Linked DNA regions of Homo sapiens: regions 1, 2, 3, 4 and 5 are each reported to be linked to region 6. The links are microRNA targets in miRTarBase. Many come from high-throughput screens and were not tested one by one. Region 6 holds a microRNA gene; each other region holds the end of a gene's coding sequence.
What was found. The annotated mature microRNA hsa-miR-6792-3p reads CUCCUCCACAGCCCCUGCUCAU and lies in region 6 at 1,360-1,381, shown strand. An mRNA with a match to its seed (bases 2 to 7 or 8) in the 3' UTR can be bound and repressed. Matches are read on the target gene's strand: a 7mer-m8 pairs with bases 2 to 8, a 7mer-A1 pairs with bases 2 to 7 and ends in A, and an 8mer does both.

Region 1: miRTarBase lists GABRG2 as a target of hsa-miR-6792-3p. Seed matches in the 3' UTR shown: 7mer-A1 at 3,835-3,841.
Region 2: the mRNA of DMRTB1 is a reported target of hsa-miR-6792-3p. Seed matches in the 3' UTR shown: 7mer-A1 at 699-705, 7mer-A1 at 750-756 and 8mer at 808-815.
Region 3: miRTarBase lists IL5 as a target of hsa-miR-6792-3p. Seed matches in the 3' UTR shown: 7mer-m8 at 562-568.
Region 4: the mRNA of SH3PXD2B is a reported target of hsa-miR-6792-3p. Seed matches in the 3' UTR shown: 7mer-A1 at 3,543-3,549 and 8mer at 517-524.
Region 5: miRTarBase lists AGPAT4 as a target of hsa-miR-6792-3p. Seed matches in the 3' UTR shown: 7mer-A1 at 621-627, 8mer at 2,762-2,769, 7mer-A1 at 3,496-3,502, 7mer-m8 at 3,788-3,794 and 8mer at 4,044-4,051.

What each region holds. Positions count from the first base shown.
Region 1 is chr5:162,152,845-162,157,910 of GRCh38, reverse strand. It overlaps GABRG2 (gamma-aminobutyric acid type A receptor subunit gamma2), which reads right to left. Exons shown (of 10, transcript NM_198904.4): 10 at 2,385-4,818. The coding sequence ends at 4,543. Among named protein-coding and RNA genes, the nearest start is that of GABRG2, 88 kb to the right of the region's middle.
Region 2 is chr1:53,466,051-53,471,121 of GRCh38, forward strand. It overlaps DMRTB1 (DMRT like family B with proline rich C-terminal 1), which reads left to right. Exons shown (of 4, transcript NM_033067.3): 4 at 545-1,438. The coding sequence ends at 612. Among named protein-coding and RNA genes, the nearest start is that of DMRTB1, 9.2 kb to the left of the region's middle. RefSeq lists enhancers at 3,114-3,653, 3,654-4,191.
Region 3 is chr5:132,537,284-132,542,340 of GRCh38, reverse strand. It overlaps IL5 (interleukin 5), which reads left to right. Exons shown (of 4, transcript NM_000879.3): 3 at 198-326; 4 at 432-896. The coding sequence ends at 530. Among named protein-coding and RNA genes, the nearest start is that of IL5, 3.7 kb to the left of the region's middle.
Region 4 is chr5:172,333,834-172,338,904 of GRCh38, forward strand. It overlaps SH3PXD2B (SH3 and PX domains 2B), which reads right to left. Exons shown (of 13, transcript NM_001017995.3): 13 at 1-5,071. The coding sequence ends at 4,536. Among named protein-coding and RNA genes, the nearest start is that of UBTD2, 53 kb to the left of the region's middle. RefSeq lists an enhancer at 2,064-2,925.
Region 5 is chr6:161,131,929-161,136,999 of GRCh38, reverse strand. It overlaps AGPAT4 (1-acylglycerol-3-phosphate O-acyltransferase 4), which reads left to right. Exons shown (of 9, transcript NM_020133.3): 9 at 366-5,071. The coding sequence ends at 460. Among named protein-coding and RNA genes, the nearest start is that of AGPAT4-IT1, 28 kb to the left of the region's middle. RefSeq lists a silencer at 4,829-5,071.
Region 6 is chr19:7,616,121-7,621,191 of GRCh38, forward strand. MIR6792 (microRNA 6792) reads left to right here and starts at 1,319; the gene lies at 1,319-1,385. It overlaps CAMSAP3 (calmodulin regulated spectrin associated protein family member 3), which reads left to right. Exons shown (of 17, transcript NM_020902.2): 14 at 403-502; 15 at 1,206-1,318; 16 at 1,423-1,541; 17 at 1,632-2,184. The coding sequence ends at 1,937. XAB2 (XPA binding protein 2) reads right to left here. Exons shown (of 19, transcript NM_020196.3): 13 at 5,015-5,071; 14 at 4,726-4,916; 15 at 4,427-4,549; 16 at 4,155-4,326; 17 at 3,826-3,955; 18 at 3,627-3,736; 19 at 3,405-3,527. The coding sequence ends at 3,466.

The DNA of each region.
Region 1 (5,066 bases), not on the chromosome of region 6:
CGAATAAAAATCTGCTGGAGAAAAAGGGGCCAAATTCCCTTGTTTACGTAAGAAACTGAATATCATCAAGATAGGAATATTTGGAAATCCCCAGATGTTAAATGAAATTTCTATCCCCGGTCCAGTGACTTTTTTTTTTATGAGAAAAGAGAGTCCTCACAAATGATGATCAATATTTTTAAGCAAAGTAGATATGGTTCTTGTACCCTGTATTTTCTGAAACTTTATATCCTTACTGAGGAAAATTACTAGCATCCAGTAATTCTTTGGTATTAACTAAGTTTCTCCTTATAATAAAGTCTGAGATACACACCAATATTATCTCCATTTTTCAGGTGAGAAAACTAAGGCAGACAAAAGTTGACAGGGCTGATATTTGAACCTAGTTAATCTGGAGCAAGAGCCTCTGCTTTTCCAATTAGTTACACAAACCATAATTAGAGGAAACTATTTCTTTATTATCCAAAATGTGGCAAAAGAAAGTTACAACTGGATTTTGCAATTGGCTTATAATCTGTAACCTTAGAAAGAATCATAATAGTTAGGTCATTCCCCACCACTTTGCTTAAATAGTAGAAAGAATGAGCCTGCAGATCCTAGCCATGGAAACTTTTTGGTTGTCTACTGCCACATATCCCAAAGGACAAAGGCTAACTCTAGGTCTGGAGTTGTTTAGATGTTTCTTTGAAACAGCATTCTGAAAGCAGTATGGGTAATATTAAATATCAATTGGTCATTTCACATGAGAAGGAATAAAATAAATACAAAACCCATTGACTTCCCTCTGTTACTAGGTATTCTCAAATTCCTGTCTCATTGCAATAAAATGAGTCAAAGTGAGGCTTAGATCAAAGAAGGAAAGCATCCTGCAGTTTGGCAGATCCTAAAATATTAACAGAAAGATAAAGTATTCCAGAATTTTACTTCTAAATTCTGAAATACTGTGAGACACAGTGGAAAGAGCAATGCTTAGATGACCCCCTGATCTGTCATTAACTAGCTGTGTGACCTTTGGCAGTTCACTGAGCACTAGAAAACATAGCCGAGCTCTTGGTCTACGTCATTCCCCCATATTCTACACCTTTGACAAAGATTCATAGTGACAAAGCATAGAGATAGCAATTTTTGACATAATCCCTGAAGACCACATCATTTTGTTAACTTAATTTGACCTTCATTGCAGACAAAAATTTTTGCTACTAGTCAGAATAATATTGAGACTTAATGCAAGGAATGAAGGCCATATAAAGATATGAATTCAGCTAAAGTTCAGGGCATTGAGTTAGACAGCAGACAACATCTAAGTGAAAACTATATTTTTATAGGTTTGGAAGGTGAGAAATAGATGATTAAATTAGATGCAGGAAGATATGAGGGGCCAAGAGAATGGGGCCAAGGATGGTTAGGGCAGCTGTGTTGTGAAGATAATATTATATTCCTGGGAGAATTTCAAAAGAGTTCAAGAAAACATGACATTGTCTCTGGAGTAGGGCTAATCAACTTTGTATGTTTGTAAATTTTGAGGGTACAAATAACAGTTCTTTGGCCTTAAAAATAACTAATGTAATGTGTAAGTTTTTTTCCAATGAGACAGAAATTTCCCACATATAGTTTAAAAGACTTGCAATGCAAATATTTCCTAAAAATAAAAATAGAGTGATGTAGAGTCACTTAAAGGCTTATATGCCTAATGCTGGATTCTATTAGGGAAGCTAGTTTGATAGGATGAAGGGAGCATGACAGCAGTGCATGGAAGGCATCGGAAGTGAGGGAGAGAGCTTTTGACCATTTGTTGAGTGTCACTACATAGGTTAGCATTGGTATATCTAATTTATAGCTGCTAAAATGGAGACTTCTAGCTGGGCATGGTGGCATGCATCTGTAGTTCCAGCTATTCAGGAGGCTGAGGCAGGAGGAATGCTTTAGCTCAGAAGTTTGAGGCTTCAGTGAGCTATGACTGTGCCACTATACTTCAGACTGAGTGACAGAGGGACACCCCATCTCTAAACAAATAAACAAATACATAAATTATTTTTAATGGAGGATTCTAAAGTCTGAATTGACAATTGTCTAACAACTGGTAAATAGTAAAGCTGGGATCCCAACTTTGTCTGGCACTGGAATTAATGTTAACCACACCGAAATTCTTGAGGTAGAGAAGACTTGAATTTTTACTTACTTTATTACATGTCTGCCTTTCTTCTTCACTCTACAACCCACATGCCTCTCTTAATTTTTTTGAGGTGAAGAGTACCGCCATGCAAAACACAGTCACACAGCTCACAGATAAAGCTCACTGAGAGGGGATTTGGGGAAATGAGGCAGGAAAGAGAGGTCACAATCTCTAAGACAAACAGTCCCACCAGACTACTGAGATGCCACCATGGATTAGAATGCAGCATTTTTATTGTAAAAGTCCACATGTTAGGCAATTCCCTTTGTGAAAAGGTTTCCAAATACATAGACAGGGAGCAGCTTATAATAAGTATTAGATTATATATAATATATATTCATATTGCCAATACTATGCACACATTGGAAAGCTAGCTTTTTGTAGTGTCCCCATTACAGAACACATTTCAAGTTGACAATAATGTTTCTCACCATTGAAACTTGCCAACAACTCTCCCAAAGAGTCAACATTTAATATATTGACAATTCAAAACAAGAAAATAATTCGTTCTATTTACATTTGTTTGAGGTTATATACTGGAGCACTGATATATTAAAGGTTTGTAAAACTGGCAGCTAAATGTGTTTCAAGATTCATCCAGATGACTTGATGATGACTTTACATGGTTTTATACTGACAAAGCCACTCTCTCTTCTTTTCTATTCTTTTTAGGTTATCTGTAAAGTTATACTAGCTATGATTTAATTATGACAGAGTAATAATTTCCATAAAAATAATTAACAAAGGGTGCTATTTTAGAAAAATAAGGATTCAGGATGAGTACATGAAGATAGAGCTCAACTCATCATGTTTTAAGTCTGGAGAAATTGCTTTGTTTAACTACAATGTAATCTAATGAGGCCACAGTCATTGGCTCAACCTCTATGTGAGTCATTCATTTTTTTTTTTCAGTTTTTAAAAGCTAATCTTCAATACTTTTTCGCACAGAATGCTACATTCTGAACACTAGTCAGGTATGAATTTTGCTTATTCCTGTTATAAGTTCACAAACAAAATTGTGGATGGGCAAGGACTGACTCATCCCCAAACCTGGAAAAATAATACACAAACTCTAATTATGCCCTAGTAGAGTCATGTCTATACACAAACATAGGACATAAATATTGTTTTAAAAGGAGTATGGACTTTGCCTAAAATAATTTTTTGAAGATGAACATAAATAGCTAAAGTTCTTTGGATCCTACTGGTTATTTTTACAAAATCAAATATCACTTGACAACACCTATGTGAGAAGATGAGTCACTGGTTTCAGGCCAGCACAGAGATTTGCCAGAAGCATGTGAGGGCAATTCACTTCAAACCATATTTATTGAGCACCAACTATATGCCAGGCACTATGCAAGGTGCTACAGACCCAAAGAGGAAATGACAAGGATTCTGCCCACAAGGCACTCACAATCACTAGAAGCAGATCTTGAGATGGAGAATAAGTTCTGTTATGATCTATCATCCTAAAAGGAAGAAAAAAATAGCGGCAAGCACATACAATTACTTTATACTCTAGTTATGAAATTGGGCATATTTAGAGGTGGCAAATGTTGATTATCCAGTCTATATTTTACTTAAAGTGTTGTAATATGTCATACAAGGAAAAAATAAGCTGTTCGAATCTTCATGCATGAGGGAGAAGGCAATGAAAATTCCTCCCTCCATTTCCAAACCCAAATCCTTATAATTACATTCAGGAATCTTTTATAGCCCAAGGACACAAAATAAAAGACAATAGGATGATAACTTCAGTCCATTTATTTTGGATCTAAAGAGATGCATGCACTAAACTTGAAGCATTCTAAGTTATTGAAATATTTACATCATTGTACATGAATGTGGAGGAAATTTTCTTCCTATCTTGAGATAAAGGTGTAATAGATTTCTGGACTAGGCTTTCATATTTAAAGTGAGTTATGATTTTTCTTAAATGAGGGAGGTATTCTATTGGGATCAAATTTATCACAACTTGACCCGGAGTGAACATAGGGTACAGTTTTGGACCTTTTCTATCTAATTGCATTATGAATCTAGTAAGGATACCACTACTGTAAATAGTCAGGGCTTTCACTGTTTTATTTGCTGTAGCTGAAAAATATCTTATTTGGTTTGAATGTTCTTGCTCTAATTTTACTTTGCCTTGCAGGTTTGAAACACAGCAAACATCGAAGTTCAAAGTACACTAACCAAAGGAGGGCTGGGCACAAACAATATGACATTATAAAATTTACCAGGTTTGGACATAGAAACAGATTCAGATCATTATCAACCACATAGAGGATTATTTAAGTGGACTTAGAACAGACATCTCTCCATGAGACTCAGTGAATAAGAACCATATCAGTAAAACCCATACCTCCTCACAGGTAGAGGTAGGAGACCCAATAGACCAGATTAAACAGGCAGAAGGCAGTGGGGAAGAAGATCCGAGCATAGGAGTCCATTTTGGCAATGCGGATATGTATCCTCCCATGTCTCCAAGCTCCTGTTCGACAATCTTCAAAACAGCAGAAAAAACTGGCACAGTCCTTGCCGTCCAGACACTCATAGCCGTACTCTTCATCTCTCTCTTGAAGGTGTGTAGCATTATTCATTTGAATGGTTGCTGATCTTGGGCGGATATCAATGGTAGGGGCCTGGGACGAGGGTAGGGAAGGAGAGGGATCAGTTAGTTGTTCTCGAGAGATCCTAGGCTGTTTTTCCACAATGTCACCAATGTGATGATGAATCTGAAAATGGGTACTCAGGAAATTGCTATGACATCATGATCTACAATGGTAAAATTGAACTTAGAAAGATAGCACATTTGCAGATTTCAAATTTTGAGCTTAAGCAGTGCAGCTGAAAATAATATCATCAAGCTAATAGCTATAGCAAGGAGATT
Region 2 (5,071 bases), not on the chromosome of region 6:
CCCAGCTTGTGACGAGCAGAGCAAGAGCTGGAACTTGAATCTGAATCACATGGCCAAGGCTAGGATTCCAGGCTCCTGGCGCCTAACAAGTTAAAGAAAATACATTCTCCCCTAGGGCTGGGAATGATGAGAAAGGCTTATGGAAAATCTGTATCTGGGCTGGGCACAGTGACTCACACCTGTGATCCCAGCACTTTGGGGAGGGTGAGGTGGGTGGATCACCTGAGGTCAGGAGTTCAAGACCAGCCTGGCCAACATGGGGCAACCCTGTCTCTACTAAAAATACAAAAATTAACTGGGCATGTTGGCGGGTGCCTGTAATCCCAGCTACTCAGGAGGCCGAGGCAGGAGAATTGCTTGAACCTGGGAGGTGGAGGTTGCGGTGAGCTGAGATTACACCACTGCACTCCAGCCTGGGTGACAGAGCGAGACTCTGTCTCAAAAAAATTAAAATAAAATAAGAAAAAAGAAAATCTTCATCTGCAAATAGGTAGTTGTAATTTTCGCTCTTTCTAAATCCAGCTACCTTCTTTGTCCTTCACAGATGACCAGGATGCAGAGGTACTGTCGGGTGAGCCCAGCCAGCCATCGTCTCAGGAGCAGTCCGACTAGGCCCCAGGCCCGCCCTCCTGGCCAGCAGAGTGGGGCACTGGGGGGCAACAGCAACAGTTTTCTTGTCTTCATTCAGTGATATGTAGGGAGGAAGGAGGTTGATAGCATAGATGGCAACTGATTCCCAGTTTAAGATAGGAGGAAGGAGAGCAATTTCTAAGTTTCAATCCTGCGCTGTACAGTTGAAGAAGAGTGTGGAGGAAGCTATTACCAGGGGAGGGCCAGGGCTCTGAGGAGTGGGCGCTGGGAGAAGCTCCCATTTAGGAATGAATTTAACTGTCCTTGGGTTACACTACCATTTATTGGAACAAGCCCCAGAGGCAGTATTTGATTTCCTCAGGCCCCACTCTAGGACAGGAGGCACCATCTATTTCAGCCTTCTGCTGCCTTTGCCTGGTCCTCCAGGTTGCTGGGGGCACCACAGACATCAAGATTCCAGTTCATCCAGGTGGCTGGAGCCAGCAGCCAGGACCAGGGTCGTTGACAGCAGGTTCTGCAGCATCCTGCCTTGCTGCTCTGTCCCCCACATCTTCCTGGCCACAGCCCCTTGCCCCTCCTCTAAGGGGTTTTACTAGCAAGCATCCTGGCTGCTGGGGCTACTTCATTCCCCCTCCATAAAGTTTCAGCCATTATGGGCACTGGTTTTAAAAAATTTATTAGTTTGACTATTTGATGTTTTTATAGTGATTGCCAACTTTAAAAAGTAGGCTGTTCATAAGCACTGATGCAGTCCCTAGGGAATAGAATGGTGCTTCTGATCACCTGTGACATGAACAGTTTCTTCTGTGAGGACAGTTGGCTATTGAAATAAAATGAGCAATGGAAATCCTTGTGGAAGGCTTATTCTCCCTTTGATCCTGGTGGAAGGTAGGGTTGGCAGGAGCCTGAGTTGGGGAGATTGGGGGCCTTGGTTTGTGGCCTGTGGCTGGCCTTGTCTGCACTTGCTTAGTTCCTATTTTTAGTTCCTGCCCTCCCTGTTCTACCTCCCCTTTCTTTATCAAGTGAGGGGATTGGGCCAGGCTAGTAGACTTCTTTATTATTACTGTTGTTATTTTAAGCAATGGAGACCTTTTAAGGAAATCTGATGTAGACACACAAAATGTAAAGATGTCTTAGTTTCCTTCCTCCAGCTCCTTCCATAGTCCCTGCATAGGAACATGCATTTAAAAAAACAGAACTTGAACCAATTCTGTTTTAGGGTCCTCGGCTTCTTCCATTGGTTGCATTTATACCTTCATTTAGAAAACATCCTGTGTTTCTACTAGATTCAGAACTTGACAGTTCCCAGCTCTGCCCATGAGGAACATGACATCTAGTGGGAGAGACAGAGAGTCTTAGGGGATTCATACTAGAACAGAGAGGTAGGGAGGCTGTGGGAGTGGTCAGAGAAAGCCTTCTGCAGGAGTCAGGGCCTCAACCACAACATAAGGGGCAATAATGAGTTAGGCAGAGAAGAAAGAGATGAGTACTCCCAGTAAGGATGCAGAGGAGGATGGGGACCTGGTGTGAAGGATTCCATGGTCAGGGCAGTGTCCTGTTCTCTGTCCAGGGAAGGGCTGGCACCCAAGAGAACAGGTCAACTTTACTTCCTTTTTTGCCTGTGGGCAGAGGTGTCCAGGCATCCTCCTAAGTCCTGGGATAGGTAGTGGGGGGATCATTGAGAAGTGATACCCTAACTATTCTCTTACGTCAGTGTGGTGGCTGGGGCCTAGGGCCTGGGCTTTGTTGGAAGGCACTGGAGGCAGGCACTGTCACAAGAACTTTTCAGTTACTGCTATACAGACATAAGAGTGTTTTCAGCAGGGCAGACCACGCATGCTGAGGCCTGAGGTCTGCAGGTCAGCACTGGTGTCAGCCTGGACAGGATGATGCGGTGATTTGGGACTACCCTGGCTTGGGGGCTGAAGCTATCACTTACCCCAGTGCTGGTCTTCCCCTTGGGGACCACAGTGCTGCAGGACCCTGAGAGGGTGGGAGAAGACATGCCTTTTGGTTGCACTTGACATCAATCACCATGCCCTAACTGAACCCCTGACCTGCCAGTACAGCAGGGTGGGGCTGGATTGGTAACCTTACTTTTTCTTTTTCTTTTTTTCTTTTTTTTTTTTGAGACGGAGTCTCGCCCTGTCGCCCAGGCTGGAGTGCAGTGGTGCGATCTCGGCTCACTGCAAGCTCCGCCTCCCGGATTCACGCCATTCTCCTGCTTCAGCCTCCTGAGTAGCTGGGACTATAGGCGCCCACCACCACGTCCGGCTAATTTTTATTTTATTTATTTATTTTTTTGTATTTTTAGTAGAGACAGGGTTTCACCATGTTAGCCAGGATGGTCTCGATCTCTTGACCTTGTGATCTGCCCGCCTCGGCCTCCGAAAGTGTTGGGATTACAGGCGTGAGCCACCGCACCTGGCTGGTAACCTTACTTTTTCATAACACTTGAAGTTTTATCTTAGACTCCACATTTTGAAAGATTTTCCAACCAAGTTGCACTACTCAAATAAAGCTGCTTTCCTGTTTCTGGTCAGCACACACGCAGAAGTATGAAACAGTCTCTGTGGCCACATGGACACCACAACTATTCCAGACCAATGCAAGGAAATGGGTTGTTTAGTTAGCCTGTGGGGAGATAGGAGGCTTTGGTCTTTGGAGAAGAGTAATGTCCTGTTGGAGGGGTTGATGCTCACACGACTCCAGGATGGGAGGATTTCTCATTTCCCCTGTAGGCCTGTGAGCTGATGAATCTCCAGAAATTGGTCGGCATCTTTCCTGGAGCCTTGGAGGCACCTGCTGGGGTGAAAAGACCAACTGGGGGTCAGGGGCTTGTCCCAGTGCTGCCCCCTGGCTTACTGGTTTTCAGGAAGGCCTGCCTTCCTACCTTTCCCCGGTATGAACCCCAAGTTGTGAGCACCCAGCCTGCCCTTTCCTGCCCCTGTGGGCTCACTGCGGTTACTTCCCCTGGTAGGTGGTAGACCCCTGCTCCCCGCAGCTTTGCCAGGCAGCCCAAGCCATGATCCCTGAATGCCCAGCTCCTCCAGGCAGGCCTCCAGCAGCAACAGCATGAGCACTGAAAAACCAGTTCTGCTCATGTTGCTGCTCTGCATACAAGCCCTCCGTGGCTCCTTCCTGCTCCCTCTGGCCGGACACGGTGGCTCACGCCTGTAATCCCAGCACTTTGGGAGGCCGAGGTGGGCGGATCACTTGAGGTCAGGAGATCGAGACCAGCCTAGCCAACATGACAAGACCCCATCTCTACTAAAAATACAAAAATTAGCCGGACATGGTGGCTCACACCTGTAATCCCAGCTACTCGGGAGGCTGAGGCAGGAGAATCGCTTGAACCTGGGAGGTGGAGATTGCGGTGAGCTGTGATCACACCACTGCACTCCAGCCTGGGTGACAGAGCAAGACCTCATCTCAAAAATAATAATAATAATAAGGACCTGCCTGCTGGCCTCTCCAGCCTCTCCCTCACTGGCTGGCCCAGCCCAGTTCCTGGAGGGCTTGGGGTCGTCCAGGTCCAGGCAGAAAAAGGATGGAAAGCCGAGAGACTGGCCGCCAGGGGCAGCACTCTTCATCCCAGATGGCCGGGATAATGTTCTGGAAGGCAACCAGCCGTCATTCCCTGACCCCGGTGCCCTGGCAGGGCGCCGCCGGGAGAGGGCGCGACGGCAGCAGTTGCGGGCGGGGCCGGGGCCTGTTGCCTAGGGACCGGCCTCCCACTAGGAGCATGTGGGCCGGTCGCTGCGCCTCTGCTCGCCGGGCTGGAGGAATAGGTTTCTGCAGCGGCGGGCTTGGAGCGCACCCCGGAGACTAGGAATTTCCCTCTAGTTTAGGCTATGCAATCGCCAACTTCAGCGAGTTGTCTTTGCGCAGCCCTGCCTGTGACATCCATGCCCTCCTAACTTTTCTTTAGACACCACCCCCATCCTCGTGTTCCATAGCACATTCGCCCGCTTTCTTTCCTTTCCGCACTTTTGCGCGTGGACAGTCCTCTGCCTAGACTCCTTCCAGCTTCACCTAGTCATCTATTGTCCTTTCAGACTTAGTTCCGGCGCCGGCTTCTTCAGGACACCGGGCCTCAGCCTCAGCGTGGGTTAGGAGCTCGTGGGGCCTGCCCTGCCCGCTGCTGCCTTCCGTCAAGGCCGCTGACCCCACTGAGTAGATGCCCCTCCCACAGGCCCGGGAACGTCCTGCAGGCAGTGGCAAGGGCTCTTAAGCCTCTGTCCCCAACTTCCAATGTGGGGCTTGGCCCTGGTTAGCCCAGTGCATGTTGCCAATGGATGCGTGAATCCAGGGCATGTGTGGTTTTCCGGGTGGAGGGTTCAGTTGGCCCAGCCTTTGGCCACCTACTGCGGTATCTTTTGCCTTACATTTTTGCTCTGTTTGCTGGGACATTACAGAGGGGTCAGAAAGTCAGCTTTCGTTGAAACTATACTGTGTGCCAAGCCCTGCATTCCTTCCC
Region 3 (5,057 bases), not on the chromosome of region 6:
ATACCACAAAACAAAGCCTAACTTTGTGGACCAAAATTGTTTTAATAATTATTTTTTAATTGATGAATTAAAAAGTATATATATTTATTGTGTACAATATGATGTTTTGAAGTATGTATACATTGCAGAATGGACAATGGACCAAATTTTTATACCTTGTCTTGATTATTTGCATTTTAAAAATTTTCCTCATTTAGCACCAACTGTGCACTGAAGAAATCTTTCAGGGAATAGGCACACTGGAGAGTCAAACTGTGCAAGGGGGTACTGTGGAAAGACTATTCAAAAACTTGTCCTTAATAAAGAAATACATTGACGGCCAAAAAGTAAGTTACACACATTCAATGGAAGCTATATTTGTCTGGCTGTGCCTATTTCTATGGAATTGACAGTTTCCTGTAATACCTATTGTCATTTTTCTTTTTTCACAGAAAAAGTGTGGAGAAGAAAGACGGAGAGTAAACCAATTCCTAGACTACCTGCAAGAGTTTCTTGGTGTAATGAACACCGAGTGGATAATAGAAAGTTGAGACTAAACTGGTTTGTTGCAGCCAAAGATTTTGGAGGAGAAGGACATTTTACTGCAGTGAGAATGAGGGCCAAGAAAGAGTCAGGCCTTAATTTTCAGTATAATTTAACTTCAGAGGGAAAGTAAATATTTCAGGCATACTGACACTTTGCCAGAAAGCATAAAATTCTTAAAATATATTTCAGATATCAGAATCATTGAAGTATTTTCCTCCAGGCAAAATTGATATACTTTTTTCTTATTTAACTTAACATTCTGTAAAATGTCTGTTAACTTAATAGTATTTATGAAATGGTTAAGAATTTGGTAAATTAGTATTTATTTAATGTTATGTTGTGTTCTAATAAAACAAAAATAGACAACTGTTCAATTTGCTGCTGGCCTCTGTCTTAGCAATTGAAGTTAGCACAGTCCATTGAGTACATGCCCAGTTTGGAGGAAGGGTCTGAGCACATGTGGCTGAGCATCCCCATTTCTCTGGAGAAGTCTCAAGGTTGCAAGGCACACCAGAGGTGGAAGTGATCTAGCAGGACTTAGTGGGGATGTGGGGAGCAGGGACACAGGCAGGAGGTGAACCTGGTTTTCTCTCTACAGTATATCCAGAACCTGGGATGGTGCAGGGTAAATGGTAGGGAATAAATGAATGAATGTGCTTTCCAAGACTGATTGTAGAACTAAAATGAGTTGTAAGGCGTCCCCTGGAAGAAGGGCAGTGTGGGAACCTGTAACTAGGTTCCTGCCCAGCCTGTGAGAAGAATTTGGCAGATCAATCTCATTGCCAGTATAGAGAGGAAGCCAGAAACCCTCTCTGCCAAGGCCTGCAGGGGTTCTTACCCCACCTGACCCTGCACCATAACAAAAGGAACAGAGAGACACTGGTAGGGCAGTCCCATTAGAAAGACTGAGTTCCGTATTCCCGGGGGCAGGGCAGCACCAGGCCGCACAACACTCCATTCTGCCTGCTTATGGCTATCAGTAGCATCACTAGAGATTCTTCTGTTTGAGAAAACTTCTCAAGGATCCAGAAAATATGCTCTTTAAAATATTTTAAAACTGATATAGACCCAAAGGAGAGACCCTCCATTCTCTCTTTCTTTCATTCAACAAATCTGTATTGATCACAGGCTCTCTGCTGGGTGTGGGATGCAGCTGTGGGCCTGTGCTGGAGGTCCTTAGAGGCCAGTACTCCTATCCTGGGCTTTATCTGCATGGATTGCTGCAGTGTTGGGCTCCACTGCTGTGTGAAGCAATTGCTCCTGCTCTTTCTGGGCATGGGAGAAGGGTCAGAGCAGTCGGACACAGATTCCCAGGCAGGAGAATGGAACTCCTTCCGAGGAAGAAGACGTGTTTTCCTTCCAGCACACACCCAGGCATGGTGGTCAGGACCGTGGACCAGGTCCCCAACTTGTGCATGCACCAAGCCCCAGGATCAGGAGCAGAGCTAGTGAGGGAGCAAGATGGATGAGGACAGCACGGTGCTGACCACTCTAGACAGACAGGAGACAGGAAACAGGAAACTCAACTTGCAAAAAGACTGAATCTCAACTTGATTCAATTAGGCAGATACTGAGTTCCAGTATACTCCAGGACTATTCTAGGGGCTAGGATTCAACAGTGAATAAAACAGACAAAATCCTTTCCCTTGTACACTTATATCCTCTCAAAAAAGCTCCTTTCCCCTCTTTCTTATCAGGGTCTAATATAGTTAATAAGGACTTAAGACTGGAATATCACATCTAAATCCCCAATAATGAGCCCTCACCAATCTGCCAGGTCCCAGAGAAGCTAAAAACAATCAGGGCTGTTTGCAACTAACTGAAATAAAACTTGATTCGAACTCATGTCAAGCCTGTTGACAACACACACACATGTCCACGTGTCACTGCTGTGCATAGAAACCTCTGACTCACTACCATCTGAAGTCCAGGCTCCTTCACAGGTCATTCAAGGTCGACCTCTGCCCCCTCTGACCCCTGACATACAGAAATACAGGCATCATCCATGTAACAACCTTGGCAAGAAAACATTAACCAGGTGCCTCATTCCCATTATTTTAAGTGCGAAAAATTTTAATGCATTATGTCTCAACCCAAAATCTTCAACCAACTTCTTAAAACATAAAACATAGTAAAATGCCTGTATATAAGGAAAAAACACATTAGGGTGTAAAAATTTAAACAAAATATTTTGTATTTATTTATTTAATTGTAGTAAAATAAGGATATAAGATATTTAAAACAGTACTTCCTGATCACTCAGCAGTTAATATAATGGTTGCTTTGTCTGTATAACATGCTGCACGTCCCCTTAGTTAACATTCAGAGCCTTTCCGATTGTCTTCTGTGAACGCTGATTTGCTACTAATCATATGTGGAATAAACCTAAAGACTTTGTCCATTGACTCCCCTCATCACTTGGTTAAAGAATTTCTTATGTTTAGGGGACATAAATATTTTTACAATATAAATATTGGTGGGAAAGCATTGTATTGAGAGACACGTTCTATGAAGAAGAACTGTATGTGGAAAACATTTATTGTGGAGATGTTCAGGCCAGGCATGGTGGCTTATGCCTGTAATCCCAGCACTTTGGGAAGCTGAAGCAGGAGGATCACTTGAGTCCAGGAGTTCAAGACTAGCCTGGGCAACATAGCAAGATGTCTCTACAAAAAGAAAGAAAAGTAGCCAGGCGTGGTGGTGCACATCTGTAGTTCCAACTACTCAGGTGGCTGAGGTGGGAGGATCACCTGAGCCCAGGAGGTGAGGCTGCAATGAGCTCTGATTGTGCCACTTTGGGCAACAGTATGAGGCTGTTTAAAAAAAAAAAAAAAACAAAAAAAACAAAGAGATGATCTGTAAAGAATGCTAGCTCTTATTCTTCACAGAATATCCATGAATTTTCATACCTCTGTGCCTTGGTCCACACTATACCCTCTGTCTCAGTATCTTTTTTCTTTCCCACCCAACAAACTTGTAATTGCCCTTTAGATGTTTTCATTCACCATATCCTCCTTCTTTTTTTTTTTTTAGAGACAGGGTCTTGCTCTGTCACCCAGGCTGGAATGCAGTGGCGTGATCATTGCTCACTGCAGCCCTGAACTCCTGGGCTCAAGTGATTCCCCTGTTTCAGCCTCCCCAGTAGCTGGGGCTACAGGCACTTACTACCATGCCTAGTTAATATCTTTTAAAATTATTTTGTAGGGATGGGGTTTCACTATGTGACCTGGGTTGGTCTTAAACTTCTGGCCTCAAGTGATCCTCTCACTCTGGCCTCTCAAAGTGCTGGGATTACAAGTATGAGCCACCACACTGCCCTCTTTTTATTTTTATTTATTTATTTATTTATTCATTTATTATTTTTTTCGAGATGGAGTCTCACTTTGTCACCCAGCCTGGAGTGCAGTGGCATGATCTCGGCTCACTATAACCTCCACCTCCTGGGTTCCAGTGATTCTCCTGCCTCAGCCTCCCGAGTAACTGGGACTACAGGTGCATGCCACCACACCCAGCTAATTTTTATATTTTTAGTAGAGACAGTGTTTTACCATGTTGGTCAGGCTGGTCTTGAGCTCTTCACCTCAAGCAATCCACCTGCCTCAGCCTTCCAAAGTGCTGAGATTATAGGTGTGAGCCACCGTGCCCGGTCTTTTTATTTATTTATTCATTCATTTATTTATTTATTTTTTGAGACAGAGTGTCACTCTGTCACCCATGCTGGAGTGCAGTGGCATGGTCTCAGCTCACTGCAAGCTCCGCCTCCCAGGTTCATGCCATTCTCCTGCTTCAGCCTCCCTAGCAGCTGGGACTACAGGTGCCCACCACCACACCTGGCTAATTTTTTTGTATTTTTAGTAGAGATGGGGTTTCACCATGTTAGCCAGGATGGTCTCGAGCTCCTGACCTCATGATCTGCCCATCTCAGCCTCCCAAAGTGCTGGGATTACAGGCATGAGCCACCGTGCCTGGACTGTTTTTATTTTTTTAAGAGATAGAGTCTTGCTATGTTGTCCAGGCTGGACGCAAACTCTTGGGTTCAAGTGATCCTCCCATCTCACCCTCCTGAGTAATTGGAACTATAGGCAAGTGCCACCATGTCCAGCAGTTTTTTTAATCTCAATGTACCTGCCTGTGGCCAGCTGACCTACTGCTTTCATGGTCTCATATCATTGTGTACATTTACCATCAGGATCACGACATAGAGAGAGTAAAATGCACAGGCCTATAAATGTAACGAGCTGTTACAAAAGTTTCAAAGCCACAGGAAGGTTCTACCAGGTGCTTAGAATGTTTATTCCATTTATACAACAAAGAACTAGAAAAACAGTTCCAGAGTATAAAAGACTCAAGCCTAGGAGTCTCCATGTTTCACTTGTCCGATGGAAGTCCCATTCTTACCAAAGAATCATGGCAGATTTAGGTTTTCCTGGTGTCAGTATTAGCTCAGACCTCATATTTAACAATGTTTGAAAAGTTTGGGTATCTCCTATACTAGTGTGTACTTATCCTGATGAATGGCTCCAGATCGCTTT
Region 4 (5,071 bases), not on the chromosome of region 6:
ATCAAGGTGGCCACAGTTTATCATCACCCCTCTAAGTGAAAGGGGCGCTAACAATAATTACACGGGCACAAAGGCATACATGGGCACACACTGGGGTAAAATGTGGACACCATCGTTGCATTAGAATTGCTTATTGCTGATGTAAGCCTGGTGGGGGCACCTTCTTTTTTACATGAATAGGACATCTAAAAGTGAAGGCTACCGACTGTGGCACTGCGTTTGGCCTCTTTGAGGACAGAAGAGGTTGAGCCCCTCATCCCTGATTGGAGCTAAGAAGGCTTACTTTGGAGTCGAGGATAGAAACGGGAAGATGGAATGTTGAAACATGAGGAGGAGCTCGATAACTTGGCAGAATAGCACCAGAAACCAGATGCCACCCCACGGAGCTGGGCAGTCCAGTCTGTAGAAAGGTGCTCTGAAGGAGGTCCATGAGCAGGCAAGGACTGTGGAGCCTCCGGTTCCAGCTCTGCAGCTCTGCCTGGGACCCTCGTGGAAACTTACTCTAGTTAGGAGCAATTCCTCCAGGCCAAGAGAGGGCGCCCTGCACCCTCAGGCCTCGATGCATGCTGCTCTACCTCTCATCAGCCCACAGTCTGACACGAGGTCATCTTTGGTCTGTGGTGAGGTATGGATGTCTGCAGTCTACACAACAGCCCTGCAGAACGGGCCTGGACAACCCTTGGGGGATAAGACAGCCACACATGGCTCAGGCTGTTAGGTGTCCACTGTCACAGTCCAAAGAGAAAGGTACGGCCTCCAAGGGGGCAGCTTAAGCCAACATGTAAGACTTGGGCACGATGAAAGGACGGGGGTCCAGCTACGAATGTTTTTGTTCTTGATGTCAAGTTGCCAGCTACTGGAAGGCAGGAGCAGTTTCTTCTTTTTCCCACTCTGTGCTGGGTACTTGGGAGAGGCGAAATAAATACCAGACTGTCCACTCCTCAGCCTAAGGTCCTTCTCAAGTCCTGGCACACTCAGCACTTGCTCTTTAACGTGGCATATGTTCCCCCATCTTCCACCTGGTAATGAAATCCTCAGTGGGCGCAAACATTTTAGGGCCAAGAACATTGACTTGGAAATTGATTCTATGGCGTGGCCTTGTGGCAGAGGTTTAAAATGACTACCGTAACCTGGCATGGGCTCCAGCGATCCCCCAGTAGGGAAGGGCCATTAAAAGCGGTTTAAGCTGGAGCTCAGCTCTCCCGCAGTCTCAGCTGGGACGACATACACCCACCAATGGCAAAGAAAGATTCCGAGCAGAACATGTGAGCAAAGGCCTCTTTTATCAAGAGGTGGTCTTAGACTCAGGGTTTTCCAAATTTTTGGAGGTACCGCAAGCTGTCCGTTTGCCCTGGGATGTAAGGTAAAGTAGTTGTCACAATTGTGTTAATAAGCAGGGGTGAGGGGAAGAAAAAAAAATCTCTGCCCACCTTTTGGGCTGCCATTTGGCCTGTGACCTACTGAAATGTGTGAGCAAGGGGCGGGGGGAAGAGGCACCGAAATTCAGAGGGAGGGTCACTTGATTCCCTGGAAGCCCTCCGCACACTTCCCTGCTAATGGCAGAGAAAAGTCATGGACACGAGGGAAAGAACAACAACAACAAAACCAAACAAACCCAAACTCGAGATCTCAGTCCCAGCTTGGCCACTATTTGGACCTTCTCCCTCTGAACCTTAATTTTCTCACTATAGATCAGGGCTGGTCCTATCCGCCTCACAGGCTTGCCGTAAGGATTAAAGGAGCGTGTGTGTTTAGGCACTGGTCACCAGCCCGGTGCTTGGCACCATTGTCACGATGGGCCTGGACACTTTCTAGAGCCATGACTCCAGGGGAGTTCTGCATATGCGCCATCAATCGCTCACAGAATAGCGACCACAGTCCTGGATGGGGTAAATCTAAGTCCCCAGGCAAGGACAGCTAGGAGAGTGACTGGCCACCCTGACCCACCCACTGCCTGGGGAAGTGTCTACCATTGTAGGAAAAGGAGCTGGATACAGACGTCCTCAGGCCATAGATATGACTCAAGGAGAGAACAGTGAACAGAGAGGACTGTGGCTTCAGTACCCGCGGGTCATGTCAGAATAATCATCATCATCATAGCAAAAGAGAATGGCAGATTCTTTCATTTGCAGGAAAACTTTCTGCCTAGAGGAAGGCAGGGCAAGTCTGCTCCTACCCAGCTGACCCCCGGGAGGAAGGAATGAAGCAAGAGAGAAACTCCTTCAGTGAAGTCAGCAGACAGGACTCAAAGCTCTTCCAGCCAGGGATGGAGCCACACACATCCCAGTCTACTCAGCACCTAGCACAGAGTAGACACTCACAAAGTATCTGAAAGCGTCGCTGAAAGGCAAAGAGCAAATCAGAAAAAAACATGTGTTTTGTCTTTTGAAATGCAGTCAAATCTCACATAGCTTCACAAAAGTTGTTTAAACCAAAGTGGATCAAGAACTCAGGAAAACTGCCATGGGGCCTCCTCTCAAGGGAGGGGACCCTCAAGCGGTGGCGGCCCTTCCCCACCTCCCTTCTTCCCCTGGCTGCCATCTGCCCCCAACGCTCTGGGCACAGGGCCAAGTGGCAAGTGGGCCCTGCCCAAGCCTCTCTGGGAAATGGGATTTGCAGGCCGACTGGACGAAGGCACTAAAGATGCTACAGGTGATCAGAGGAAGCTCCTCACGCAGAAGCAGCCAGCACCCACGTGATAGGGGGTGGAGCTGGGAGGCGCGGCAGAAGAGGGCTGTTCAAGCAAAACTTTGGCACTGCAGGTAGACACTGAGCATCCCCCCAAAAAACTGGCTTTGTGGGTCCAAAAGTATCTCGCCTGATGAACACTGTGAACTGGAGATCTCTGGGGCAGGGCAGGGTGGGGAGGGGCGGGGCAGGGCAGGGCAGGGCTGCCTCGGTCGGGTAGAATGGGAAGGGGTTCTGCTCTGCTCTCTTACTCTGGGCTGGGAGCTAGAAATGCTGGGTCCTGATTTTGCTTCTGCAGTGATTTAGTCATGCCTCTCCAGACCTCAGTTTGACAGATGACCACATCTGCCCTGGGTTTCTTCAAGGGAGAAAACAGATTTGGCAGTGCGTGAAAAAAGAAAAAAACATTACAAATGCCGGAGAGGCACAGGAAGCAGCTCTGCCTGGCCCTTGGTTACCTGCCTCCCTATGGGACCGCTGCATGCTATGCTCAGAGCCCTCCAGGCTGGCCCTCGAGGCCACCTCAGCTCCCGTTGCTCCATAAGCTCTATTCCCCAGGGGGCAACAGCTTAGAAGAGGGAACAGGGCTCTGTGTCAACCACCAGGACCCTGGCATTCTCCTGTCATGGAGATGCAGCTGTTGAGTCCAGGGCAGCCTTTGGTATAGGCTGCTGTGGGCTGGAGGGATGGTGGGTGTGGGAGCAGCCACGAATGCCCCCTCACCCCCCTCACAATGAAGCCACTTGGCCACCACTTAGCCAGCTTCTATCTCTTCCCTGCCTGGTTTGTCTTTTACAGAGGGGAGGGCACAGGCACTGAAGTCAGGCAGGCCTGGACTCAAATCCTCTTCCCTCTTCCTCCTGGCTGGTGTGTCCTTGGGCACATGGAGCGTGAATTTCCTCATCTATAAAGGGAGGTTGTGAGGGTCAAAGCATGAATGCAAAGCGCCAAGTACAGTGTTTGGCACCCACGAGGCACTCAGCAAAGGGGTGCTCACAAGGGCACGACTTGTGAATGGGCCTCTTATTCAAACAAACTTTGAGATTCTTGCTTTAGGTAGGCAAAAATGAAATGCTCCAAGTTGGGGTGGGAACTCTCATTGAAAAGCCCTGGAGGGACCGGAGCCTGCAGCAGCAAAGCGCAGCATACGCGGGGCTGGAACCACCCTTCAGGGCTGACCACGGTCCCAAGATAGAAGGTGGGAGGCAGGGCGGCTGAGCGGATCTCCAGGCCCACTCCTGGGGGAGCCGCATCCAGTGGAACCTCAGAGGCCCACGGGCCTGAGGCTTTGGGGAAGGGGACACTTTCCCTGGAACTGGTAATGGAATGCATTTCTTCAGGATGAAGTTCCTTCTGGTAGCAGGCAATTTAGGAGGAGTGAATAAAGCCACTGGGCTTTTAGAAACATGAAGAAGTTGGAGCAAAAGTCATCATGGACTGGGTTGGCTGCCCCTTACTGTGCCATGTCCAAGCCATGAGAGACCCTTGCTGGAGTTTCTCCAGGCAATGGGATCCAGTCCTGGAGGTCTTGGAGAGTCTTGGTCCCACTGCTGGGTGGCAATGCCATTGGCCAGGAGGAGTTCTCTTAAGGCAGGGATGCTGACATGGACAGAAAGCAAAGGCTGTGGGTTCTGAGCCTCCAGTGATGCTGTGATAGGAGGGATCAGGCCCAGGGGCGCCCGAGGTGTCCGAAACTCACTCTCCACCCATGGGAGGCAAGAAGTCACAGTACCCCAGAGTCTGTCTGCCTTGGAAGCTGCGTGGAGAATGATAAATTAAGAGGCGTATTAAATACGTGGGTAAAGCCAGCAAGGACCAGCGGGCCCTCTAGGCAGAAAGGGAGTCGGCTACGGCTTCTTTCTGAGATAGTTGGAAGGAATCCACCCTTCCCAGGAAGGGGCTCCGCTCAGGACCTGGCAGAACCACCAGCCACTGCTGTTCTTCTCCCGGACTTCAAACACTGTCCCTTCCTGGAAGCTGCTGGTGTCTTTGTCTCCTTCAAAGTCGGCCACGGCCACATACAAAGAGTCCTTCAGGCCGTCGGCATTGGGGACAGAGGCTGCAGCTGCTTTCTCCCTGTTTTCTCCAATCTTGCCGGTCCCCCATGGCCCCAGGCTGCCTTTGCCTCGCGTGTCATCCTGGCCCCCCAAAGAGTTGGAGAGAAAAGGTTTGGCTTTTGGAGGGACGAGGAGAGCACGGCCTGGGGTGGGAGCTGCCCTGCTTTCGTGGCCTTCACACTGTGGACCTCTGACCTCTGGGAGCGGCCTGGATGACGAAGAGGTTTTCTTTGGGGGAGGTGGTCTGCGGGGTGGGACCACAGGTCTCTGCTGGGGAGCCTCTTGGAGAGGAACAGGCACGCTCTTAGACACAGGATCTGTGGTCT
Region 5 (5,071 bases), not on the chromosome of region 6:
ATGCCCTGTTAACTTCCTGTCCCTTATTCACAAAAGAATCCTCTTTACCTGGGGGTCAGCAGAGGAAGCCAGGGATTTCTCTGAGTCCCTGCGAACGGCTGTGCATGGCTTGCCAAATCATTCACCTTCAGGGTCCAAGGAGGAAAACCCCCACCAGAGCAGCCTTGCTTTGTCTTAATGTCACATGGATGTCCACACTCAAGGATGATTGTAAAGCCGGCAGGATGATGGCACCTCAAACCCGCCAGCCAGCTCTGAGCTGGCGCTTGTGATTTGCGGCCACGGGCCTTCTCACTTGCTCTGTGGGAAAACGGCCCTGTAGTCTGTTTGGGCTACTCCTAACTCTGCTCTCCTTGTCTCTGCAGCCTCCGTGGGAGTTCGATGGATGATTGGTGTGACGGAAATTGACAAGGGCTCTGCCTACGGCAACTCTGACAGCAAGCAGAAACTGAATGACTGACTCAGGGAGGTGTCACCATCCGAAGGGAACCTTGGGGAACTGGTGGCCTCTGCATATCCTCCTTAGTGGGACACGGTGACAAAGGCTGGGTGAGCCCCTGCTGGGCACGGCGGAAGTCACGACCTCTCCAGCCAGGGAGTCTGGTCTCAAGGCCGGATGGGGAGGAAGATGTTTTGTAATCTTTTTTTCCCCATGTGCTTTAGTGGGCTTTGGTTTTCTTTTTGTGCGAGTGTGTGTGAGAATGGCTGTGTGGTGAGTGTGAACTTTGTTCTGTGATCATAGAAAGGGTATTTTAGGCTGCAGGGGAGGGCAGGGCTGGGGACCGAAGGGGACAAGTTCCCCTTTCATCCTTTGGTGCTGAGTTTTCTGTAACCCTTGGTTGCCAGAGATAAAGTGAAAAGTGCTTTAGGTGAGATGACTAAATTATGCCTCCAAGAAAAAAAAATTAAAGTGCTTTTCTGGGTCATCTGTGGTGTATGTTGACATGGACCGCTGCCCCTCCATCCTGCCCTTGCCCGTGGCTTTGGTGTTTCAGATCCTACTCACGGGAGGCAGCTGCCGCGGAGGTGTGGGCAGCTGAGAGGGGTGGGCAGGCCAGCACAGCTCCTGGCAGGAGACACAGGTCCAGGAGCCCGTGAGCATTTGTGAGAGCAGAGATGGCAAGCACGTGCGTGGAGACCAACGAAGCGTGTCCCTGGCACACAGCAAGGGAGAGTTTCGCTCGGTCTCTGCAGTGCAGTCTCCTGGCGTAAGTCTTGAAGATGGACCCAACTCCCTGAAGAAATGGATCTTGAAATTGAACACAAACATCATGAACGTACAGCCTGGGCATTCTGCAGTGATTTGTGAGATGAGCTTGCATCGACTGTTCCTCTCAGCAGTGACAGCCAAAGTCACCCCTGATAAAATGCAGTTTCACTTTATAAAATGCCTCGCCCCTTCCCAGCATGTAGAGCTTGTCTGCAGCCCTAAAGGAGCCAGGTCCTGCTCTGATGAGGGTCAAATCAGAGCCGACATCCCATGTACAAAAAACCCCCAGGCTTCTGCCTTCCTTCCGGGCTCCTGTCTGCTCCCATTTTACTCCACGGAATAGTTCTGCCCTGTAGCATCTCCAGCGGCCTTTGCAGACTGCTGTCAGCCAACAGGTGCCAAAAATGCAAAAGAAGAAGAAACTAAAAGCAGTGCTATTTTTGCAGAACAAATGCTAGCTATTAAATCATCTTAGGCCAAGACACCAATGGCACTTGGACCGATAGGTATTTGGAGCATGAGTTAGGAAGGATATGTCTTTCTCCAGGTGCGCAGCTGAAAGTTGCTGAGAAAAGCTGCCTGTGTTGCTGTGGTAACATGAGAAGGAATGAACAGCTCTATACAAAAACTGGCCACACATTATAAGGCCTATTCTATGCAGTTATGTTTTTGGCTATTTGCTCATTTAGTCATTGTTTATCAACCAAACTAGGTAAGCCAAGGAGTTACAAGACAGCTCTAGAGAAGCTCCCTCTGCTTACAGGACAATAATGCATTGTTTGTTTGTTGATACAAATGAATTATTTGAATCCACAGAAGTGAAAAAGGGAAAAAATCCTGGCTGACTTGTGGGAAGAGCGTACTGCAGAGCCTAGGGCCTGAGTTAACTCGCTGGCGGCCCTGCAGGCAGGCTTGATGGGAGCGCCCAGCACATCTGCCCACCCTGCACAGGGCATGAAGCACCGTGTGCAGAGATCTGTGGGCAAAAGCCCAGGACGTGACCTTAGGCAAGAGGGGTCCTTGGAGAAGTGGAGGTGTGCATGGTGTGTAGCCTTGCGTGTCTGTGAGCACGCCCTAGTGGACCTGCGCCTGGATTATCGGGCCAGTCTCTCGGAGGGGTCCGTGATGCTGAGTTACGCCATTCACCTGAACTCTGCAGCTCATCGGCTGTAGGATTTGGGTGAGACACTTTTCCTTGCTGACTCATTTCCCCATCTGCAAAATGGGGGTGACGATATCTACCTCTTGGGGTGTGTCAAGGGTAAAAGAGCACACTTTAAGAATCCTAAAGCACTAAGCCAAGGATGAAAGACTAGAAAGCTGCCTCTATGTTGCTACTCTCAAAAATGCTCAGAAATTTTCTTGTCGTACTAAAAATGTGTTATTTTTCTCATTTTCATTCTTCCATTCAACACAGAAGTAATCTAAGTAAGTTCTAAAAACATAGATCCGGGGGCCCACAGACATTCAATTTTCTTCTGAATTGGCTCTGGTATCACACAACACACAAGCAAGCAAACAGCCTGCCTGCTAGGGCCTTGGGTTCCAGGCTGGAGGAATGCAGGCAGAAATCTCTTAGGAAATAACTAAGTGAGCGCCAAGTTTTGAATTGCCTTAGAGCCGAAAGAGAATGTGGCGTGCTGGGGAGAGATCTGGACCTCTTTCTCATCAGTCATTTGACCTGTCCACGAAGAACAATTTTGTTATGCAGCCTGGGAACCTGGTTTCCTTACACCCTGCGCCCTTAATGACACAGACAACCACGGGTACTCCTGGACGGAAGCTCATCACGCCTCCTCAAATACCTTCACCCATGTTCAGGTCACACGGAGGTCACCATCTCCTCAGCACACAACAACTGCTTTGGTTCCCAGGGTTATTTTTTCTACGAGTTGAAAACCCACGGAGCCTAAGCCATCTTTTTGTCCCCTAAGGAGAGCCCCATAGACTAAGAGCTACACTTCCTGTCTGTCTTTCCCACCTTTCCATCTCATTCTAGCTTAAAGCTTATCACGCTACTGAGAGCCTGTTCTGTAGTTCAAGGTGGCAGAGAAAAATACGAACCTTGAGTGAAATCTGGAGAGCAGTGCAGGGTCATCCCCAGACGTGACGGGCCATATCCTAGGCGACTCCTGCAGCTTATAGAAGCAGGGAATTTAATGGACTTCTTCCAGGAAAGCCAGCCCACGGGGACTCTTAAAAAGACACCAACCATTTGGAAGATGCAGCTTGAGGTCTGGGGGACTGGACTGATTCTGCCACCATATAGTGAACACGATTAATCGGGAGGAAGAAGTAAGGCACTCTGTGAGTTAGTCTACCACCCTATTGACTTTGACAGAGAGAAAACCAACTTTTTTCATATGATCACACAGTAGTACTGGAATATCTCGACTGCAATATCCTCTAAACAAATGCATGCAAAGCTTTGTAAAAGCAGCTGATGATTAAAAAAATTTTAAAACATTAGGGTTTTTCTAATATATCCATATGTGGGACAGTGATTTAAATGTCATTAATTGTCCAGCCACAACTTGTAACAGTGATGTGAAAGACACAAAAAAGGCCCCACTGGAGTGGAGGAGTGGTCTGGCTGGTCCCCAAGCAAAACAGAATGGGCTTCGCATAGGCTTTAGAACTTATTCATAAATATTGACCAAAGTGTGAAGCAAGGTATCCAGTGAAGATTCTCTAGGGTCTCTACTTCTGCTCAAGAGATTTAATCCAGCTTTCTCTAAAGCAGTGGTCCAGACTTGCCACATACTAGGTTAAAGATAAAGTGAGAAAAACAAATACTTTGGTTTGCACGTCTCTTGAGGGGCCCTAGGCTGTATGGAGGAATATTTAGAGGAATATTTGTGAGCTGCCATTTGTGTTTAAAAGAACATGAAAGCAAGACGGGCCCTAACCCGCCTGTGTCTGTAGCTGACCAGGAGGCCACTGCTTCCTTCCCCCAGAGCTTCTAGGAGAGCCCCCCAAAATGCAACTCTCCAAGGTCCTGTGGAGTAGTCCCCTCATAATGCCTCCACCACACCTGTGTCTCACGATGCCTTAACTGACGTAGCTCCTAAGTGATGTTCACAGAGAAGGAAATACTTAGGCAAGCCCATGTGTAACATGCTCACAGATGTGCTGGCTTTGCCAATGCTTTCGGACTCCACCATGCTTTCTGATTCTTCTGGTCCTAGTCACGCCTTGGCACGGGGCAGAAGCGGCCGAGCTATGCTGACAGGTGCTGCTGAGAGCCAACAGCCATTCAGCCGAGAAGGCGTTTCTAGGTGAGGGCATGAGAGCTGGCATTCCAGGCTGCTGAGTGCGGCATCTGCAGGTGCACCACATTGCTCCACGGTGTGTTCAGAAGAGACCAGCATCTTGAATCTCAGGCTCTGGGCTCATTCTTTGCCTCTGCCAAGGGACCATTCAGGGGCTTCAAGCCAGCTGCTGAAAATCCCCCTTTTCTGGATTTTTCCCCATCTATATAAGGATATGGTGGCTGTGTGGACAAGAAATTGGTTTCATCTCAGAAGGGTGCTTCCCTACAAAGATCTTCAGAAATTTAATTGAAAACAATTTTTTGAACTTTTTTTGTTTGGCCAGGATGAATGAAGCTGAAGTCACATCCTGAATGTGCATGCCAGACAAAGGGTAAGCAAGCAGTCTTTACAAATGCCAATCCCTCTGCACTCCAAAACCGGAGCCCGTAATGAAGGCCCAGGTTCCAGTCATCACAGGATCCCCCAAGCCAGCACAGTGCCTGATGCCTCCCTAGGCATTAGCACATCCCAGCACTCTAATTCACATCCTCAGCATCCCTGCCTCCTGCATCCAGGGCTTAGGTTGAGTGTTTCCAGAGTGTCAAGT
Region 6 (5,071 bases):
AGGTTGCGGTGAGCCAAGATTGCACCACTGTACTCCAGCCTGGGCAACAGAGCGAGACTCCGTCTCAGAAATAAGACAAAAAAAAAAAAAAAAGACTTCCATAGGGATGTGGGGTGCAGTGGGATGAGGGGTCTTTCTTCTGTGGCTTCATGGATAGGAACCTTTGGGAGTATGTTTGGGGTGAGGCGTTGCCAGTAGGGGCTGACCCAGTGCTGCTCCCCACTTGCCTGCTGGGCAAAGCATCCTCCCTCATAGAGGGGTCCCCCCATAGGGGTGCTGCAGAGGGCCGAGGGGTCTTGGGCAGGACTGACTCCTCCTGTGTTCCCCCCACAGCCTGCTGGACCGGGTGTTGTGGAGGGCAGGGGCTTCTGGTGGGCACTGACCTGCAATCTCTGTCCCCAGGCTCTCGGCTGAGCAAAATCTATTCCCAGTCCACCCTGTCACTGTCCACTGTGGCCAACGAGGCCCACAATAACCTCGGGGTGAAGAGGCCCACGTCTCGGTGAGTTTAGCCCGCACAGGCGGGGTTCGTATGCCGGGTGGCTTCCCAGAGCCTGGGAGGTGTGTGGGCATCTGGGTGAACCTAGAGGGCGGTATGGCTCGAGTTTATGGATACGCCATGAAGAGATGGAGGGACGCGTGTGGGCACGTGTGCATGGGGCATAGTCTGTACCTGGCAGACAGGACTCAAGCATGTGCCTCAGTGCACTTGAGTGCCAGGTGTTCCTGTGGGAGGAGGACAGCACGGGGCACTGCATGGACTTGGGAGGGTGTGCAGTGTATACCGCCTCCTCTGCAGTGTGTGTGGCCCGCCTTTTTTTTTTTTTTTTTTTTTTTTGTTTTTTTGAGAGGGAGTCTTGCTGTGTCGCCCAGGCTGGAGTGCAGTGGCGCAATCTTGGCTCACGGCAACCTCCGCCCCCTGGGTGCAAGTGATTCTCGTGCCTCAGCCTCCTGAGTAGCTGGGGTTACCCGTGCCTGTAGAGACGGTGTTTCACCATGTTGGCCAGGCTGGCCTCGAACTCCCGACCTCAAGTGATCTGCCCGCTTTGGCCTCCCGAAGTGCTGGGATTACAGGCATGAGCCACGATGCCCAGCCGTGGCCCTTATTTTCCTTGGCCCCTCTGCACATAGGGAAGCTTCCCATCTCTGACCCCACCTCCATCCCATCCTGACCCCACCTCCATCCCATCCTTCTCCCACTGCAGGGCTCCCTCCCCGTCAGGTCTCATGTCCCCAAGCCGCCTGCCTGGAAGCCGCGAACGGGACTGGGAAAATGGCAGCAATGCCTCCTCCCCAGCGTCAGTGCCCGAGTACACAGGTAAGCAGGGGCTCTGGGTGATGTGAGGAGCAACAGGCACCCTCCTCCACAGCCCCTGCTCATTCCTGCTGCCCCCCACCCCCTCCCACTGCCTCACCCTCTAGGTCCACGGCTGTACAAAGAACCCAGCGCCAAGTCCAACAAGTTCATCATCCACAATGCCCTATCACACTGCTGCCTGGCGGGCAAGGTGAACGAACCGCAGAAGAATCGCATTCTGGAGGTGAGCCCGCCCACACGTGGGAGTTGGGGGCTGGTGGGTGGGTGGGTGGCCTGACTTGGCCAGCTGACCATTTCCAGCACTCCTGCCCAGGAAATTGAGAAAAGCAAGGCCAACCACTTCCTGATCCTCTTTCGCGACTCGAGCTGCCAGTTCCGGGCGCTCTACACGCTGTCGGGGGAGACAGAGGAGCTGTCGCGGCTGGCAGGGTATGGGCCCCGGACCGTCACGCCCGCCATGGTGGAAGGCATCTACAAGTACAACTCGGACCGCAAGCGCTTCACCCAGATCCCCGCCAAGACCATGTCCATGAGCGTCGATGCCTTCACCATCCAGGGACACCTCTGGCAGGGCAAGAAACCCACCACTCCCAAGAAGGGCGGCGGCACCCCCAAATAGCCCCACCCGGGCGGTCCACGGGCCGGGCCCTGTGTGCTGCGGCCGCCATCCCCTGGAGGACAGTCAGTCGGTATTCCTGGGTCCTGTCTGTCCCCAACCGTGTCTGGGTGGGGCTGGAGTCTCCACCCTCTGACTTTGAGTCCAGTCCTGCTGTGGGGGCTGAGCTGGGAGGTTCAGGGACTCAGGGCTCAGCTCAGTCCCCTTGTCTGTCCTCCCCCACTTCTTGAATAAAATAATTTAAAGAGAAGTTGAACCTTGTCCCCCCCTCCGAGGCTGGCCGGGGTCCCACACTCCCTGGCTGTGTTTTTAGTCTCCTGTTCTTTCTCAAACCAACTCCTGTCTTCAACCCCCATAATCCCCTAATGCAGCTTCAGCCAGGGCACTCCCAGCCCCCAGCCAGGGCTGTTTCGAAGCTGCCTCTGAACTGATCTCTCAGGCTCGAGGTGTCCCACTGGCCCTTCCTGTGGCCTTGGCCACCCCCGCTTGCTGGATTCTCCTGGTCTGTGTGGCTGTTGTTACTGGCCCTAACCAGCGTTTGGCATGGGGCCAACTTCTAACTTGATCTTGTCTCCCCTGGCCAGCCTGGTGTTTCCAGGCCTGGCATCTACCTCTGGGCCAGTGATTCCAGGTTTCTCTGAGATCTGTGTTTGACAATCCAGTTGCCCCCTGCCATTGCCTGGGTGTCTCTCTCAGATGCAAGGCCTGCCCTGCAACCCAGGCTGGCACTGGCTTCCCAGCTGCCGCCCAGTTCTACACAGCTCAGCCCTCCCCTCCTGTCTCACTCGCTTCTCTCCAGCCCTGTCACCTCCCTGCAAAGTCCAAGCCAATGGCCTGGGCCTCCCCATGTCCCCAGCTGCCTCCTGCCCACACAGCAGCCTGTGTGACCCGTTCGAAGCACAAATCTGATTATATCCCTTGATACTTAAAACCCCTTAATAGCCTACAGCCCGCTAATGGCTTCCCAGGCTTAGGACTAAGGACCACGCCCTGGTCCTGGGCCGTGCACAAGGTCTGGCGCCTGGCCCCCGTCCAGGCACAGAAACGCGTTACTAATCAGTTCCCAGAGCTGGGCCAGAGCCTGCCTGACTCCAAGACTTGAGGGCAAGGGCCAGTCCCTAGTGGGGAACAGACAGTGGGTGCCACCCCAGGGAGGCGGCAGCTGCCTGGGGCCACAGAAGGGCTCTGAGAGGCAGGGGCTGGCGAGACCTGGGCAGCCAGGGGCTGGATTGCCCTTCCCAGGCTACAGAGGCTCAAGGAAGTTTCCGGGCAGGACCCACTCCAAGGCCCCAGGCAGCGGAGGGACTGGCCTCTCGAGTCCAGAACTGGCTCTGCGGGGTGAGGCCGGGCAGTATCTGGCCTGGGGCCCAGCCGCCCCACCTCCCACAGCAGCCAATCCCGGCCCAGGGCCAGGCACTCCTGAGCTGTACTCCCTCGGGCACCTGGGCAGCAGGAAGGAGGCTCAGACCATGATGTACAAACGTAGCTGTATTGGGGAGGGGGTGGGGAGGGGGGATGGGGGAGGGACGGGTCAGTCTTCCTTCAGGCTCCCAAACACTGCGGCTGGCACGCTCTGCTGCTCCAGCCGAACCTCTGTGGGGAAGGCGGGAGCCAGTCACCCTCCTGGCGTTGGCCTGTCCCCCGAGGCCCACCCTGGTAATGCCACCGTCCCCGCCCCAGCCGGGCCCTCACCGTTGGGCTCCAGGTCCATCTCGTCCTCGTCCTCGTCCTCGCCCAGCTGGATCTCCTCGGGGTTGACCTGCTGTGCCAGCTCTGCCAGCTCCTCCCGGGAGGCGTCACTCCTAGGGACGGGCCATGCTGCCTCAGTTCCCCACCCCGGGCCCCCTTGGGACCTGTCCCAGTCCTGTCCCGTCCAAGGATCCGCCCTCACCTCACGAACAGGATCTTGCTCTGGGCGCGCAAGGGCTGGTCACGCTCCGCCTCAGCCGCCAGCTGCTCTGCCCGCTGTTCCAGCAGCTTCATGTCGTCCATGCCACTCTGCCCAGGGGCCAGGTCAGACACTAGGGGGTGGGAGCAGGGGGTCAGCGCCACGGGGGCCCCTCCCACACATCGGACGTTGCACTATCCCAGTCCCCCAGGTGATGGCCCAGCCCTCAAGGAGATTGCCATCAGGATCCGAGGCTCCCAGACCCGGAAAGCCCAGGTCAGGCCGGGCTGAGATGCCCTGGATCAGGAACTCAGCCAGCTGGGACGGCTCACCGGTGCCCGTGGCACTGCCCGAGACCTTGAGCATCTGCGAGGCCATGAAGTTGACCTGCGTGTTGTACGTGGCCTGCACGCTGCGCCGGATACGCAGCATTTCCTTGATGGTGTCCTCATTGCCATGCCGGACCTCAAAGTCCTTCCACGTCTGCCAGAACGCGCCGGTCGTCTGCGTGGGGGGCAGGGCAGGGGTGGGTGTGTGTGCCCGTGAGCTGGCTGACTCCGCCGCAGCCCCCAACCCTGATACCCGTCCCTCCCCACAGCCCTACCCGGGGGTCACAGATCTGGGAGCAGAAGCTGTAGATGGCCCGGGCGCGGTCAATCTCCCCGAGCTTGCACTCCATGTCTGCAAACCGCAGGCACATCTCACGCGCGTGCTCGTCCGACAGCACCTGGACACCGGGGTTGGGGAGGCCGGGAGTGAGGCCGGGGTAGCTCGGGGGCTCCCAACACACCATGGCCATCCCTGTGCTTCCAGAAGGCTCCTCCTCAGCCCCTCCCACCTGCCTGGACCCCTTCCGTCTGCTCAGGGACCTCTGGCCCCGGCCCAGCCCCCCACGGTGGGTACCTCAATGGCCTTCTGGTAGATGCCGCGGGTGTGGGTGACCCCATAGATCTCGGCCGCCCGCTTGATGTAGATGTTGAACATGTCATACTGCTGGGCGGGCTCCACGGCCCTGGTGGCACGCTCGTACACGGCCATGGCATGCCGGGCCAGGCCCCACTCCTCCTCCAGCTGTGCGTACAGCAGGTACAAGGCTGGGCGGGGTAGGCGGGGAGAGGGGAGCACGGTCAGCCGGGGCCAGTCAGAAACCCAGCCCGCCCGCCACCCCCCCCATGCCCTCTGCCCGCCTCACTCTTGGCATATTTTGGGGGGCAGCCGTCCAGAGCCTGTTCAAACAGGTCCCGTGCCC